Linked DNA regions of Homo sapiens: region 2 is linked to region 1. A link means that fine-mapping ties the variant in region 1 to the expression of a gene that starts in the linked region. Tissue or cell type: whole blood. Region 1 holds a variant in brackets; the other region holds the start of a gene. All regions are shown on one strand. Distances are from middle to middle.

Region 1 (8,000 bases):
TTAAGTGTGAACCTAAGAGCGTGCGGTGTGGCCGTGAGCCATGAGTGTGAACCTGAGAGCGTGTGGCTGTGAGCTGTGTGACCCTGAGAGAGTGCGGTGTGGCCATCAGGGCCTCCCCTAACTACGGCCCTTTAGAGATGTGGCAGAGCCCCCCATGACGCCCCACATCCCCCACCCACACCAGCTGACCCCAAGCTGCAGGGGCTGCCACGCTCCCCTCTGGCTGTTTTGCAGAACCCTGAGCCTGCTGTGGCTGCGTCAAGGGTGAGGGTCTGCACTGGCTCCGACGGCCCCCAGCCCCCAGGACACCGGCAGAGGTGGCTGTGGCCTGCTGAGACTTACCAGGATGTGGCCGCCCGGGGGTCCCTGAGCTTCTGTTCATGGGGAATGGCGCACCCGGGCCAGCAACTGTGGGATAGCAGAACTGTGGGAAGCCTGTGTGCACGGAGCCCACGGGGACACCCACGTGCACCCTGAAGGGATCTCAGGACGGAAATATGAAAGCGAGGGGCTGAGGGGGCGGAGCAGCCCTCACCACAGAGCTGTCCCGAATGGCCCAGCAGACTCGGGAAGAGGGGGCTCCCGGGGCTGTTCCCCAGTGGACAGTGGCTCTGGGGCAAGGTGGGGACACAGACAGCAACTCCCACAGTGTCTCCCACAGCTGGAGCTGTGAGAAGGGAGCCGGGGGGAGCCGGGCAGACCTACAGCTTCTACACTCGGAGCCGTTGTAGGCTGGGAGGGTTCCGTTCCCACAGCGGACGCAGCTGGCGCTCCCGTCCGCGTTCCAGCGCCTGTAACAGCCTGCGTGGGGCAGAGGACGGGCATGTCAGCCAAAGCAAAATCCACACCAGCTGGGTCTCCTGGGAATGATTCTCTATTTGAGTTGGTGAGATAACTTTCATTCCAGATACTAACATGCTCTGGAGGGTAGGTGGGCGGCAGACAAGGACACCCCCAGGGAGCATGGCGGGGCCGTGAGCACCCCACGCTGAGTACTCCACACTGCGCACCCTGACCCTGAGTACTCCGACCCCAAGTACTCCACGCTGCACTCTCCACGCCGAGCACCCCGGCCCCGAGTACTCCACGCTGCACTCTCCACGCCGAGCACCCCAGCCCCGAGTACTCCACGCTGCACTCCACGCCGAGCACCCCGGCCCTGAGCACCCCGACCCTGAGTACTCCACACTGCGTACTTCAGAGAGTGGTAGGCGGCAGCATCCAGAATGAACAGGCCTGTTGGAGGGACTCGTGCTCTGCAGGACTGCAGGCTGGGCCCGGCTTCCACCACCCAGCCTTCACCCCACAGACTCCCCAAGAACCCCCACTGCAACGCCTGCCCCAGGCCTCCCCCAAGACCCCCCCCACGCCTCTCCTAGGATCCCCCAACGGCCTCCCCCAGGACCCCCCCCCCATGGCCTCCCACAGGACCCCCGCATGCCTCCCCCAGGGTCCCCCACGCCTCCCCGGGACCTCCCCACGCCTCCCTGGGACCCTCCCACGCCTCCCCAGGACCCCCCCACGGCCTCCCCCAGGACCCCCCACGCCTCCCCCAAGACCCCCATCTGCAGTGCCTGGAGCGGCTGCCTCGCACCCCGTGTTCCCTCATGCCGCCCAAGCAGGATAGGCCCACCCGCCAGCAGCACAGCCTCCTGCCCCAAGCTGATCCCGACCCTTGGTCCATCTGTCACCTCCACACCCTGGCACCCTCCCCCGGGTCTCTCTCGGGGGATCCTGCAGAACCAAGCCTCATCCCCCCGCCAGGCCGACGCTGCGCCTGAAGCCTCATTTCCGCCCACCGGCCAGGGCGCCTTTAAGGACAGGAATTGACTTTTACTCCTTGACTTTCTAAATATCTCCAACACTCAGCCCAGAGCTGAGTAGACACACTCTTGATGCCGACTGCGGTGCGGCTGCTGGTGCGGGCCACGGGTGGACCACACGCCTCGACCCTTCCTCACAGACTGATCTGAATACAAACGGGCCGCGGCGACACGGGGACCCCGCGGTGGAGAGTGGGCCTGAGACCCCGGCACGGTTGTGACAGGGGTCACTCTGCAGACACACCTCTTGGAAGAATGGAAGTCCACCCGCTCAGTCCTACCAGGGTGGAGCTGCGCTCTCCCAGCACTGGGGGCAGCCTCTGTCTCCCGGCATCTCCTGGCACAGGGCTCGGGCGACTTCAGCGAGGCTCTGTCTGAGAGTCTCTGCCCCGGAGGCCGAAGAACGGAGTCCACGGCAGGGAGCCAAACACCAGCGCAGCACTGTCCCCAGAAGTGCCCGCTGCCTCCCCGAGCGGAGACGTGACCTGGCTTGGGGCCGCACGCAGGGGGAAGCGTATCCAACACCGCAGGCCCGGCCCCTCCCCACGCGCGCCAGACGGTCCCCACCCTGCGCCTGTGCATGGGGCCACCTCGGCCCTTGGACTTCACGACCCGCTGGCCTGGCCCCTCCATGGGCACCGTGACTGCTGCACAGCTGCCTGCACCCACAGAGTGCCTGGGGTACACAATCCCTCACAGGAGACGCCACGGCCCCAGCACTCTTGCTGCCATGGGGTGCCAGGGGAGTGGTTCTCACCCAGCCACCAGGGCTTCAGCATCAGACGATGAGGACCCCAAGGTGCTCAGCTTCCTCCCAGCCCCTCTGTTCTCCCTCAGAGCGGTGCCCTCCTCCTCCTACCCTGCGTGTGCCTCAGATGTCATCACTGCCTTCCTGTGGGCTCCCCAACCCCCACGCCCAGCCTCGGACCCCCGCGCCCAGCCTCACTGGCTGCCACAGCCGCCGTCTTGACCACGCCCTCCTCACGAGGCCCCTGAGTCCCCAGGAGCAGCCCTTCTGGGTTCTTCCATCATGGGAGGGCTGGACCCCCAGGATGGGAGTGCCAAGGCCCTTGGAGGTACAGCTGGGGCATCTCAGCCCCAAGTTCACCAAGGGCCGCCAAGGAGTGGCCCTTGCACCTTCTCACTCTGTCCTCCCCTCCCCTGGCTGCTCCCACTGGCTGCCCTCACCAGCCTCAACCTCCTGACACCCAGCTGCCCCCAGACAGTCCCTTCCGCAGCCTCCCAGAACCTCTGATGAACAGGGCCTGCCCGTGGCACGCTGACACAGGCCGGCATCCTCGTGGCGTCCTGTTGATTGGCATTCCACTCCACGCACCAGGGGCCAGCAGCACCTCTGCCCGAGCACGGACAGGCAAAAATGTCTTGGGCTTTGCCAGAGGCCCCTGGAGCCAGGACAGCCCCGTGAGAATGGCTGAGCTCATGGGCCACTCCCCCAGACCCTTCTCCAGGCACCTTTCTGATCTCAGCTCCTGCCTCTGCTCCCAGCCCTCTGCTGGGCCAGTCTTCTCATGAGGCTGCCGCTCAAGGCCGCCCGCCAGAAAGGAGGCTCAGATGTCCTTCCCCAAGCTCCACAGCCCTCACTGCCCCATCCACTCCCCAGGTCCCGCAGCACAGATGAGCACTGTCCTTGTCACCGAGGGGAGGGCCCTGGGCACACACACACCAGTGGCTCAGGGGCCGGTCTGGAATCTGCTTGGGACAAAGCGGCTTACCTGGACCACACAGACTTGCGCCTGGGCAGCTGGCGTTGACGCCCACCACATCCACACAGCACTCGGGCAGCTGGGCCTGGAGGGGACACGGCAGTGAAACTCCAGGACGCGCCTGCCAGGCAGGCTCACGCCCAGAGCAGCAGCGGCTGAGGGGTGCCGTGGGAGCACATCTCAATGTCCGCAGCTCCGGCCTCTTCTGGAGTCAGCATCGGGTGGCCCTCTGTCCCCTGTGGGCCTGGGAGCAAGGAGGGGCCTCACAGCCACAGTGCACATCCCTGTGGGACCCTGGGTGGGCGGTCTCCAAGGAAAAGCTGGGCCTGGAAGAGTAAACCACCCCCAGGAGGCGGCACCCGCAGGCCATGGCAGCGCCACCGACATTCTCTGCAAGTCTCCGGAGGCTCTCCATCAGGGGTTTCCGCTTGACCCCACAGAGGAAGTGCCCGGGCCTGGCTGGCATTTCAGGGGACGAATTCACGCCCAGGTGCCCAGGTACTGCACAGGTGCGCTGGGTGCTGGCACTTACGGTGTGTGTGAGGGCCCATTCCCTGACCACAGGCAGACTGGACAGGCCTGGGGGGCTCAGGGTACCCTCAGCTTGTGTGTTGATCACAGCTGTGCTGTTTCTCGTGACCTGAATGCAGTGAACGGTGAGGGCGTCCAGGGGTGACTGCGGAGTGCGGGATAGAATCCACACCGCCAGGGAGGGGCCCAGGTCCGGTCCCTCAAACGCCCCAGCCAGGACAGTGAGGGGTCCCCACCCTCCACCCGCTCCGCCTGGGAGTCTGGAGCCGCCGCAGCTACACTCCCCGATAGCGATGCGCGGCACGCTGTGCTGTCACCGCTGGCAGAGGTGCTCCCATTGCGGGCCAGGATGCCTCACCGTGGGGGCCCCGCCTGACCCAGCCATTCCTGAGCAGGCGCTCACCCAGCAGGCAGCGGAGGGCTCCCCTCTGCGAGGCACAGGCCCCTCTGAC[C/A]CCAGCAGTGGACCTGGTCAGCACCTCTGGGGCTGGGACATCAGTGTCCTAAAGGTGGAAGGGTTAGACCCTCTAGGGGAAGGGCCCACCGCCCTCCACAGAGGCTCTGGCTTAGGCCGCGTGGACACGTGAGGGGGGCACCTACCGTGTTCTCCATGGACTTGCTGGCGACTCCCACGAGAAGGCCAGCCAGGAGGGCGAGGTGCCGCAGCGCCATGCCAGGAGCAGATGCGCAGAGCCTGCCACAGGGAGGAGCATGCGGAGCCAAAGAGATGGAGTGGGGCTGAGGCAGGGTGGGTGGGGCCAAATGAAAGTGGGGTCAAGAGATGTTGGGGGGGTGCGGGCCAAGGCAAGGAGGGCAGAGCCAAATGGAGATGGGTGGGGCTGTGGTGGAGGGTGGGGCCAAATGGAAGTGGGCGGGGCTGTGGTGGAGGGTGGGGCCAAATGGAAGTGGGCGGGGCTGTGGCAGGGAGGGTGGGGCCAAATGGAGATGGGGTGGGGCGGGGCCGCGGCAGATGACTGAGTTAAATGGAGATGGGGCAGGGCCGTGGCAGGGGTGCAGGGCCACGACAGGGAAGGTGGAGCCAAATGGAGGTGGGGTGAAAGAGTGAAGGCTTGGGGCCTTTGGAGGCACGGGTGGGGCGAGGTGTAGGCAGGGCCTTACCTGCCCCTCCAGGATGGGGACTACCGACATCAGCCCTTTGCCCGCCTGGGTGTTCAGGGGTTAGCTCTGGGAGCTCATGGGCTCAGCTGAGCCCTGCAGACCCCGGCCCAGTCCTGCAGATGAAGACAGCAGGTGAGGCCGTGGTCACGCGAGGGCAACCCAGGTGGGCCGTGGCCTACGGTGCGGGGTCTGGGTCCGGTCCGGGCCCTCTGTCCACACCCTTGCCGGCCCCTGGCTGTCGAGCAGGGCGTCCTGGAGGGGCTGTCTCCACGAGTGTTTCCCCCGAGCTGGCCTCCTGGCCTCCTGCGGGTGAGAGTGCCTGGGATACAGGCCCTCGCTGGGATACGGGCCCTCGGCCCGGCCTTTGCTCAGGGACCAGGTACGGAGCTCAGTGGCCCAGGCTGCACTTGGTGGACACCGGTCCTCCCGCACAAACCCCCTCTCTCCCCCCTGCACTTCCAGCCACAGGACCTGTTACCATGGCCCTGCCTTCCTAAGGGAGGAAACGCCTGCCAGGCGCACAAATCCTCAAGTGGTGTCACTGCACTGGCTCAGGGGCCTCCCTGGCAAGTTACCCCGAGGGGGGCTGAGGCCCAGCCAGGCCTGTGGGGCTCCTCTTGATGGGCCTAGGCCGGGGTCCTGGGACAAGGGCTGTGAGCAGCAGGGAGACGGAGGCCCTGGAGGACACAGCTCCAGTCTCTGCACAGGGACGGTCCACTCTCCGCACAGGGACGGTCCACTCTGTCACCCATTCCATGCTGGATTCAGGTCATGGCCTCACAAACTGACCAGGCTGCCCAGGTGTGAGCCTGCCGGAGGACTCTGGAAGGTGGGGGTGGTCGGAATGCTTGAGCTCAGGAGTTGGAGACCCACCTGGGCAACACAGCCCGTCTTTACAAAAAGTTTAAAATTAGTCGAGCCTGGTGGTGGGAGCCTGAGGTCCCAGCTACTCAGGAGGCTGAGGTGGGATGATCACCTGAGCCCAGAAGGTGGAGGCTGCAGTGAACGGAGACTGCACTCCAGCCTGTGCAAGGGGAACTCCGTCTCAAAAAAAAAAAGCATGCTCTCCTCTGATTCAGCTCCTCCTCTCTGATGTGAAATCCTTTCAGATGGAACGTGTTGAAGTCACAGACATGCTGCTCGCCCCACCCACAGAGTGCAATCAAGTCTTAGTTTGTCCTTTTGTCCCTTTAACATTTGCCCAGCAGAGACCGTCTTCCCCTGCTCAGTGGAAAACTCCAGACATCACAGACCCTTCTGCTCCCTCTCTGGTTAAAGGGCATCCTGAGGGCCACATTAAGTCACAAAACATCATTTTGATTCAGGAACCAGAAGTCCAAGATTTCAATCAACACTTTCATCTGCTATTTAGTCAACTTCATGGAGATCTACTTTACATACAATAAACCACATCCGTGTAAAGTACACAAGCGGGTGAGTGTGACCACCCCCTTGAAGCTGCCACCACAGCCAGGACGGTGCCCGGTCCCACACAGCTGCCAGCACTCGCTGCGGCCCCCACAAGCCCGGGCTCCCGGCAGCCAGGAGCTGACCAGACTGCAGCTGTATCTTCTAGGGTCTTACACAAAGGGGTTGCACACACTGACCTTTAGATCCTTCCATGTTGTTTTATCCGCACTTTCTTCCTTTCCACAGTCGGAGGATTTTCCACTGTGTTGGCCAAACGTCACCGCCTTTGCCCATCACCTGCCAGTGGGTGCCTGGGCTGCTCCCAGTTCCTGGTGACTGGATGGAGCTGCGGCCAAGGTCCTGGCACATGTCATCATGTGGACATCTGTCTTCATTTCTCTTGGGAGCAGAGTGGCTGGCTCACAGGGAGGTGCACGTTTAACTTTCTAAGGAACTGCAGCCGTCTTCCACAGTGGCTGTGCTGTATACCCTCCCACTGGCGATGTGGGTGCACGCAGGGTGTCCGTGCATGTGCAGGAGTATCTCTGTGTCGTTACAATCTGCATTTCCCTGAAGACTAATGATGGCATCTTTCCATGTGTTTATTAGCCACTTATATATCTTCTTTCTGAAGTGCCTACTCACATCTTCTGCCCATTTTGTTTAATTGGGTGGAGTTGCAACATATACCTTTTTTTTTTTGGCAGGGGTGGGGGGCATAGGGTTTCACTCTGTTGCCCAGGCTGGAGTGCAGTAGTGGGATCGTGGCTCACTGCAGCCTTGACCTCCAGGGCTTACGCGATACTCCTACATCAGCCTCCCGAGTAGCTGAGACTACAGGTGCATGCTGCCATGTTGACCTCCGGGGCTTAAGTGATCCTCCTACCTCAGCCTCTCGAGTAGCTGAGACTAGAGGTGTGCGTCACCACCACGCTCAGCTAAAACACATATTCTTCATCAGACTTATGTATTGCAAATATTTTCTTCCATCCTGTGGTTTGTCTTATCATCTTTTTTTTTTTGAATTGGAGTCTCTGTCGCCCAGGCTGGAGTGCAGTGGCGTGATCTCAGTTCACTGCAAGCCCCGCCTTCTGGGTTCACACCATTCTCCTGCCTCAGCCTCCTGAGTAGCTGGGACTACAGGTGCCCGCCACCACGCCCGGCTAATTTTTTGTATTTTTAGTAGAGACGGGGTTGCACCATGTTGGCCAGGATGGTCTCGATCTCCTGACTTTGTGATCCGCCTGCCTTGGCCTCCCAAAGTGCTAGGATTACAGGCATGAGCCACCTTGCCCGGCCCCCGTCTTATCATTTTTTTATGGACATCTTTTGAAGAGCAAATGTTTTTAATTTTAATGAAATTTTTAATAAAATTGAATGCATCCATTTTTCCTTT
Region 2 (8,000 bases), 25 kb after region 1:
CTGGAGCTTCCACTGCATCCGTGTAGCTAATGCTGGTCATCTTCGTAGCAAGCAAAGGAAGCCAACGTGAAACGTAGCTTTAAGGGCCCAATAAGAACTGTCTGGGGCCTCTCTACCTAAAGATCCCTCTCGTGCTTTGATAGAAAACAAATACCGCAAACCCCTTGATGGGGTGTAAAGGAGACATCCCCCTTTGTTGACATGCATGGTAGTCGCTGCCCACCTACCCGTGGGCTCAGCACACCGGAGTCGGGCGGTTGCCGTAGGTGGCTCAGCAGACGTGAGCAGGGCAGGATCGGGCCCATCCCCCCACCGGGAATGTCAGGCCACCATCAGGTGATGGTCAGGTGGCTGTTAACTGTCTAAAAGAACTGGTTGCACCCAGCGCCAGGGAAAGACAGGCTCCCAATAGCTAGAAAACACATGAAATCCGGTGATGGGCAGCTTCCCGATACGATCTCAGGAACTGGGCGAGTTGGCTCAAGCGTGTGCACTGAGAGGCAAAATGGCGGCGTGTAACCGTTCTATGACCTTCTAGGGACGTTTGACAGGTAACGGAAGAACGCCTCAGGTGAGCATGGGCACTACTCCAGTGAACACACGGCGCACGGTCCCTCCCTCCAGTGAACACAACGCACACGCTCCCTCCCTCCAGTGAACACACAGCGCATGCTCCCTCCTTCCAGTGAACACACGGCACATGCTACCTCCCTCCAGTGAACACACGGCACATGCTCCCTCCCTCCAGTGAACACAACGCGCACGCTCCCTCCCTCCAGTGAACACACAGCGCATGCTCCCTCCCCCCAGTGAATACACGGGGCATGCTCCCTCCCTCCAGTGAACACACCGGGCATGCTCCCTCCCTCCAGGGAACACATGGCGCATGCTCCCGCCCAAGTACTAGCAAGATGCTGCATGGGTGGACAGCCCACCCTGAAGAAGGATCAGGGGAGAAGGGGTGCAAGACCCCAGAAGCCTGCCAGGCTATAAAACCCCAAGTCAAAAGGTGAAACCGCACACCTGATCTCTCACATCGCCCGTCTGGCCCTCCTCCAAGGGTACTTCCTTTCCTTCCTGCTCTAAAGCTTCTTCAACAACTTTCACTCCTGCTCTAAAACTTGCCTTAGTCGGTGGGGTGCGGTGGCTCACGCCTGTGATCCCAGCACTTTGGGAGGCTGAGGTGGGTGGATCATCTGAGGTTGGGAGTTCGAGACCAGCCTGACCAAAATGCAGAAACCCCTTCTCTACTAAAATACAAAAAATTAGCCGGTTGTGGTGGCAGGCACCTGTAGTCCCAGCTACTCGGGAGGCTGAGGCAGGAGAATGACATGAACCCGGGAGGCAGAGCTTGCAGTGAGCCGAGATTGTGCCACTGCACTCCAGCCTGGGCGACAGAGACAGACTCCATCTCAAAAAAAAAAAAAAAACTTGCCTCAGTCTCTCCTTCAGCCTCATGTCCTTCCATCAAATTCTTTCTTCTGAGGCAGCGAGAATCGAGGCCGCTGCTGACATACTTTGGTGCTGAAACTCAGATACATTCTGCCAGTAATAGAGCTCTGAAGGCTCACCTGAGCTCCACACTCCACCTCGGCACACGCAACCCTCAGCCAGAGTGGTGAGAAGAGGTGGCTCTTTCTTTTCTTTGTGAAACAGGCTGGAGTGCATCGTTGCGATCTCGGCTCACTGCAGTCTCCACCTCCGGGGCTGAAGCGATCCTCCTGCCTCAGTCCCTCGAGTAGCTGGGACTGTTAGTGGCAGAATATGTCCCACTTCTGACACCAAAGCATGTTAGCAGCAGTGAACCTCAATTTTTCCCTCCTCAGAAGAGTTTGATGGACGGGTAGGAGGCAGAAGAGACCTTAGAGCAGGAGCAACAGTTTATGAAGAAGCTTTAGAGCAGGAATGAAAGGAAGTAAAGCGCCCTTGGAAGAAGGCCAGGCAGGAGACCTGAGAGATCAAGTGCGCAGTTTGACCTTTGACTTAGGGTCTTCCACGCTGGAGGCTTCCGGGGTGTTACGTCTCCCGATTCTTCCCTCGGGGTGGGCCGTCCACCCGCACAGCGGCTGCGGGCACTTGGGAGGGAGCATGCACAGAGTTTACTGGAGTTGTGCGCACGCTCCCTCGAGGCCTTTTTTTTTTTTTTTTTTTTTGAGATGGAGTCTCGCTCTGTCACCCAGGCTGCAGTGCAGTGGCGCAATCTCGGCTCACTGCAACCTCCGCCTCCCGAGTTCAAGCGATTCTCCTGCCTCAGCCTCCTGAGTAGCTGGGACCACAGGCGCCCGCCACCATGCCCGGCTAATTTTTGTATTTTTATCAGAGACGGGGTTTCACCATATTCGCCAGGCTGATCTCAAACTCCTGGCCTTCTGATCCGCCCCCCTCCCCCCACGGCCTTGCAAAGTGCTGGGATTACAGGTGTGAGCCACCGCGCACAGCCAGGGCCGCCTTCTCTTACCAGCCAAATGTCCCTGGTAGAGGGGGGCCCCTCTTCTGCCCTGCTCATGTCTGACTAGCTACCTACTGTAACGGGCCACAGGTGCTTGCCCCCATGCCTGGATAATATTTTTTATTTTTTATAGAGACGAGGTCTCCCTATGTTGCCCAGACTGGTCTCAAGCGATCTCCCACCCCAGCACCCACAGCGCTAGCTGTTCTTTAAATGAGCTACCCAGTAAGTCAAAGCTCAGGTGGAGAGCAGCCGCAAGGCAGGGAGCAGCTGGGAGGTATCTCAGGGGTTCCCGGGATGCTGCCTGTGCACCCCAGGGCTGAGGTGACTGCGTGTGGAAACACCTGCCTGACTGGCTTTTAGGAGGAGTACTGGGGGCGGGATGTGTGTCAGGAAAACAACGTTTCTGTATAATTCATAAACATGTATGTTAAAAACAACGTGGCCATGACGGATCCTGGCTGAATGCAAACGGGGAACATAAACCTGAGTAATCAGGCGCATCACTGAACATCCCAGGCGGCCGCCCCTACCCTGGGGCTCAAAACCGGCTCCCTCTGCGAGGGTTTCCCAGGTTAAGCCATCAGGAAACAGGAAGACGCCTAAGAACGATACACTGGACTTTGGGGACTCGGAGGGAAGGGTGGGAGGGGGACAAGGATAAAAAGCTACAAATAGGGTGCAGTGCGTACTGCTCGGGTGATGGGAGCACCAAAATCTCACAAATCACCACTAAAGAGCTTACCCATGTAACCAAGTAACCAAACACCACCTGTACCCCAGTAACTTACGGAAAAATAAAAGAGGAAGACGCAGCTCTGCCTTCTCTGCACACCCTGGTAATACTAAGAAAAATGAAAACCAAAAAAAGGAGGCCAAGTTTGACATCCTGAAATTTAACAGGACGAGGCGGCTAAGAATTCAGCCACAAAATAGTTCCCGGGGAAGAAGCCGCGTTTGCTTTGAAACGCGGTAAGAAATGCCCCCGAACACCTGGGCTTAAATTACACCCAAACTCAATCATCGACTCGCTGCCACCGGAACACGCGCTCCCGAAAAACTGCACCCCGACTAGCCCTCGGCTACTCCAGGTGACAAACGGACAAAAACAAATCCTAAAGCCTCGCGGGAAAAAGACCTGAATCGTGGCCGACTTCTAGGACACCGGGGACCGCGCCGGTGCCCCCACTCCCGGCTGCCGGGAAGGCGAGGCGAACGCGCCCCCTTTCTTCCCCCGGGCGCCCGTCCCATCCCCTCCCCAGGGACCCCCTCCCTGCCCCGAGAACCCCCTCCCCTCCCCAGGTGCCCCCTCTCCCCCAGAGACCCCCTCCCCTCCCCAGGGACCCCCTTCCCTGCCCCGGGAACCCTTCCCCTCCCCAGGGACCCCCCTCCCTCCCCAGGGACCCCCTCCCCTCCCCAGGGACCCCCTTCCCTGCCCCGGGAACCTTTCCCCTCCCCAGGGACCCCCCCTCCCCGCTCCGGGAACCCCCTCCCCTCCTTAGGGACCCCCTCCCCACCCCTCCCCGGGGTCCCCCTGCCCTCCTCAGACGCCCCTTCCCCTCCCCAGGCGTCCCGCTCAGCCCGGGCGCCTTTCCCCCATAGGACCGCGGCCAGGCTCGTTGGGAGGCGGCGACGAGGACGCGGGCCCAGGCGCTGGCGGCTCCTCCGCGCGCCGCACAATGGGGGACGCGCAGGGAACGTCCCTCGGGCCGGGCCAGGGCCGCCGACCTTTGTCTGCCTCTCGCACTCCCTGCGCCGACCCGGCCGCCCAGACGGACCCCAGCGCCCCAACCCGCTACCCTCACGCCTGCCCCCAGCCCCTCACTCACCCCGGCGCCCTCCGGGTTTCTCTTTCGTACACCCCGCCCTCAGGCGGTGGCGCCGCGCCCCCTGGGACTTGTAGTCTTTCTTCCGCCCCGGCCCCGGCGCCAGGCCCCGCAGCTCCCAAAGAAAACTACAACTCCCGGCGGCCCGCGCGAGAGCCGCCCTCGCCTGGTGGTACCATCGCGCGCGGCCGTGGGTGGGGCGCCGGGGCGGGGCGCGAAGCGCCCTGGGAAATGTAGTCCTAGAAGAACCAGCGCATGTCTCGGGTCCCTGACACGGAGGGACTACATTCCCCCGGATTCCTCGCGCGCCGGCTGCTTGGCGTTGCCGGGAGACGGGGCGGGGCGTCGTCGGGGTCTCCCGGGCGACCGCACAAGCGTCGGCGTCCTTAGCGTTCCGCCGGTTTAGGCGGAGGCGGAGGCGGAGCGTTTGGGGGCGGCCGGGGCGGCTTCGGCTTCATCGGAGAAGGCGGCGCGGCTGCACCAGGTTTGGCCGCGGGCGCGCGGGGCCAGCGCCCTCCAGACCCACGGAGCGCCCCGAGCGCCTCGCGAGCCGCCGCCAAATGCGCCCCAGGTCCGCGGCCGGCGCCAGTGCTGGGACCTCGGCGGCCGGTGTCGGAGCGCGGCGGGAGAGACCCTGCCTTGGGTGCGGGACTGGGACGGCTCGGACCCAGAGGGCTCCCGGGGCTTCGCCTCTCGGACGGGTCAGGGCTCTGCGGTCTCAGGACGCTCCCCCGTGAGTCTCGGCGGCCCCGGGGTCTGGGCGGCGTCGCTGCCCCACAGGCCGGGCGCGTGGGTTTTTCCGGGGCTCTGCCTCTGAGCCACCCTCGGAGAAAAGACAGCTCTGTGCGTCCCGCGGCGCCCGCAGCTTTCGGCAAACATGTTTAAAGGAGCTCCCCGAAGGAACTGGGGACGTCCGTCCGCTCATCAAAGGCTTCAATCCTGTCGGTGTCCCCGGGCCCTCTCCTAGCTGGGCCAGCGCGCAGGGTGGGGGGGCGCTGCAGGTGTCGCGGCCCCCCCCAACCTCCGCAGACCCTTCCAACCCCTCAGACCCCCCAAAACCCCCAGATCCCCCAACCCCCCATATACCCCCAACCCCTCAGACCCCCCAACCCCCCAGACCCCCCAACCTCCCAGGCCCCCAGACCCCCCAGCTCCCTTGCTCCCGGGAGCTCCCAGGCCCGTCCTGCATGCGCCTTGGGGTTGTTCCTCCTTGATGGACGCCGCCTCCGGGTTCCATCCCAAGTTTAAATGCCAGAGATTTCAATGGAAATAAAGCCCCCATCTTAACAGCGTGAGGATGTTTTGTAAACAGTATTGGGGACAGCTGGGGAAGTCACATTTGTGTCTTCTCTTTAGAGGGACAGTGTTCGCCTGAGGGTCCATCCCAGGGTTCCCTCAGGGCCTCTGGAGGAGTTGATGCCACCAGTGTCTGGCCGTGGGACACCTGGGCGTGGGCGCCCAGCACCAGGGGTTCGCTGACAGCTGCAGGGTTTCCGGCCATGCGCCCGCGGACGTGCAGCTTCTGTGTCGGTCCCATTAAGAGGAACCTGGCCTGGGCGACGTTTGAGGACCACGGGGAGGACACAGTCGCGGTCCCCTTCTCGGAGTCCAGTCTGTGCCACAGGCTCTTGCCGTCTGCGGCAACTCATTGTGGAGCTGAGCCAGTGTTTCCACTTCCTTTTTGTTTTTTTGTGTTTGAGAGGATTTCACGCTGTCACCCAGGCTGGATGCAGTGGCATGATCGTGGCTCACTGCAGCCTGGACCTCCTAGGCTCAAGCGATCCTCCACCTCAGCCTCCAGAGTAGCTGGGACCACGGGTGTGTGCCACCATGCCTTGACACATATTTCTTTATTTTTTTGTAGAGACGGGGGTCTGTTTTGCCCAGGCTGGTCTCAAACTCCTGGGCTCAAGCAGTCCTCCCGCCTGGCCCTCCCAAAGTGCTGAGACTACAGGCGTGAGCCACCATGCCTGGCGTCCACTTTCTTGACTATTTCCTGAAGACCAGCGTTTCCCGGGTGGTTTCACAGCTGCGGAAGCTGCCTGTGTCAGTGTCAAGTCCCTACCCCTCGGCTTGGCCTGGGGCTGTGGCCCTGGGTGACCGTGTCCTTATGCTGGAGCTTGGTCCACAAGTGTCCCCGCCCCTTGTTCCGTCACTCATGGTGGTCTGCACCTCTCTACACGTTGGCCCCTGTCAGAGGGAAGAAGGCAAAGTCCTGGAGCTGCGGGAAGCCGTGCAGTGCATGTGTGTGTGCCTCGGGCCCGGGCTGCAGGCCCCAACAGGGCCCACCCAGCACCTGCTGAACTGTGCTCTGAGACCAGCACCCACCTGATCTCTGGGAGCAGAGCCCCTGCCGGCGTGGGCCAACCTGACAGCAGCTGCCTGGGCACTGGGCACTCCCTCGTCTGTCAGGCGGGCAGTGGATAGCTCGTCCTCTCCCTGGGGAAGGGAGACGAGGCCATGCGAGATGTCCCTGGAGGCTCCCTCCTGAGTAACCGCACGGGGTGCACATTCCCGAGAACACGAAAGGGTGCAGGATTCCACTAGGCCAGGTGGAAACATAAGGACACCGTAGGGTCGCATCAAGTTGAAGGACAATCTCTAGACTAAAACAGAAACGACATTTACTCCCCTAAGGGCCACACGGGCTGAATCCCATCCTCAGGTTATAGCAGGGATGCTAGGTCTGAAAGCCACAGGGGAGCATCGTAAGTCGCAGGTGCCCACAGATCACACCAGGGACCCCACCTCTGCCAACCGGGCTGTTTGTGTCCCCGAAAGGGAGCACTTTCCTCCCCAGAGACTTCAGGTGCAGTATGGGAAGGTTGGGGAACTAAAAAGCTGTGCACTAATATTTTTTGTATTAAAATAGAACCATCTTATGTTTGTAATGCATGGGGTTTTGTAGGGGCGGGATGTTTTGTTGAGATGAGGACTCGCTCTGTCGCCCAGGCAGGAGTGCGGTGGTGCCATCGTAGCTCACTGCAGCCTCGACCGCCCGGGCTCAAGGATCCTCCTGCCTTGGCCTCCCACAGCACCTGGGGCCACAGGTGTGAGCTGCCGTGCCCAGCCCGGCATTCATAATGCTCAAGAGAACTTGTCCTGAGAGAGGGTCGGCTTTGCCACTGAATCATCTTTCAAATGAGGAAATTATTTAGGCTCTGTAGTGTAAGTGGAATCTTACTGCATTTATGTAGGGTCTTGGAAAACTTAAGAGATTTTAGGAACAAACTATATGTTTAACGAGTCTGGAGGTATATCAGTGATTTAGTGGGGAAGATTTTGTTAATTCAAAGTGTTTGCAAACGAGTTAGAACATACGCATTTGTAAATACAGTGTAAAATGTTTGCTGGTGGGCTGTGAATTAAGAGCAGAAGGAGATGCCACCGCCTGTCCAGATGGCCAGGATTTAAACAGCCACAGCTGGTCCCTCATGCACTGCGGGGGTTGCGGAATGGTGCGGCCCCCTGGAGAGCCCTTGGCAGTTCCTTAAAAATTGGAACATGCAGGTGCCGTGGAAGGCAGCAGTGGCATTCTGGGGCATTCATCTCAGAGAAATAAAAACTTCACACACTCGCCGGCAGCTTCATTTTAATAGCTCCAAACTCGAAACAACACTCCCCCCCAGGTGGGTGGTGAGCCCACCCCGTGCAGACACCCTGAGGAGCGGGCACCATGAAGAGGCCAGGATCCGGCTGGGCGCGGTGGCTCACGCCTGGAATCC

What was found. PIP is the estimated chance that this variant, and not a neighbour inherited with it, causes the effect.
Region 2: C1orf159 starts here. The variant in region 1 is fine-mapped to the expression of C1orf159 in whole blood (TOPMed, PIP above 0.99). The same link has a PIP of 0.9 or more in T cells, aorta, blood mononuclear cells, breast, coronary artery and esophagus mucosa.

What each region holds. Positions count from the first base shown.
Region 1 is chr1:1,086,797-1,094,796 of GRCh38, forward strand. It overlaps C1orf159 (chromosome 1 open reading frame 159), which reads right to left. Exons shown (of 10, transcript NM_017891.5): 2 at 5,195-5,307; 3 at 4,676-4,769; 4 at 3,557-3,632; 5 at 706-801; 6 at 343-408. The coding sequence starts at 4,747. Among named protein-coding and RNA genes, the nearest start is that of RNF223, 16 kb to the left of the region's middle. RefSeq lists an enhancer at 6,150-6,199. The variant C/A (reference allele first, on the strand shown) is at 4,531.
Region 2 is chr1:1,111,782-1,119,781 of GRCh38, forward strand. It overlaps C1orf159 (chromosome 1 open reading frame 159), which reads right to left and starts at 4,308. Exons shown (of 10, transcript NM_017891.5): 1 at 4,279-4,308. RefSeq lists enhancers at 8-509, 728-1,022 and silencers at 3,999-4,598, 4,769-4,888, 4,929-4,978.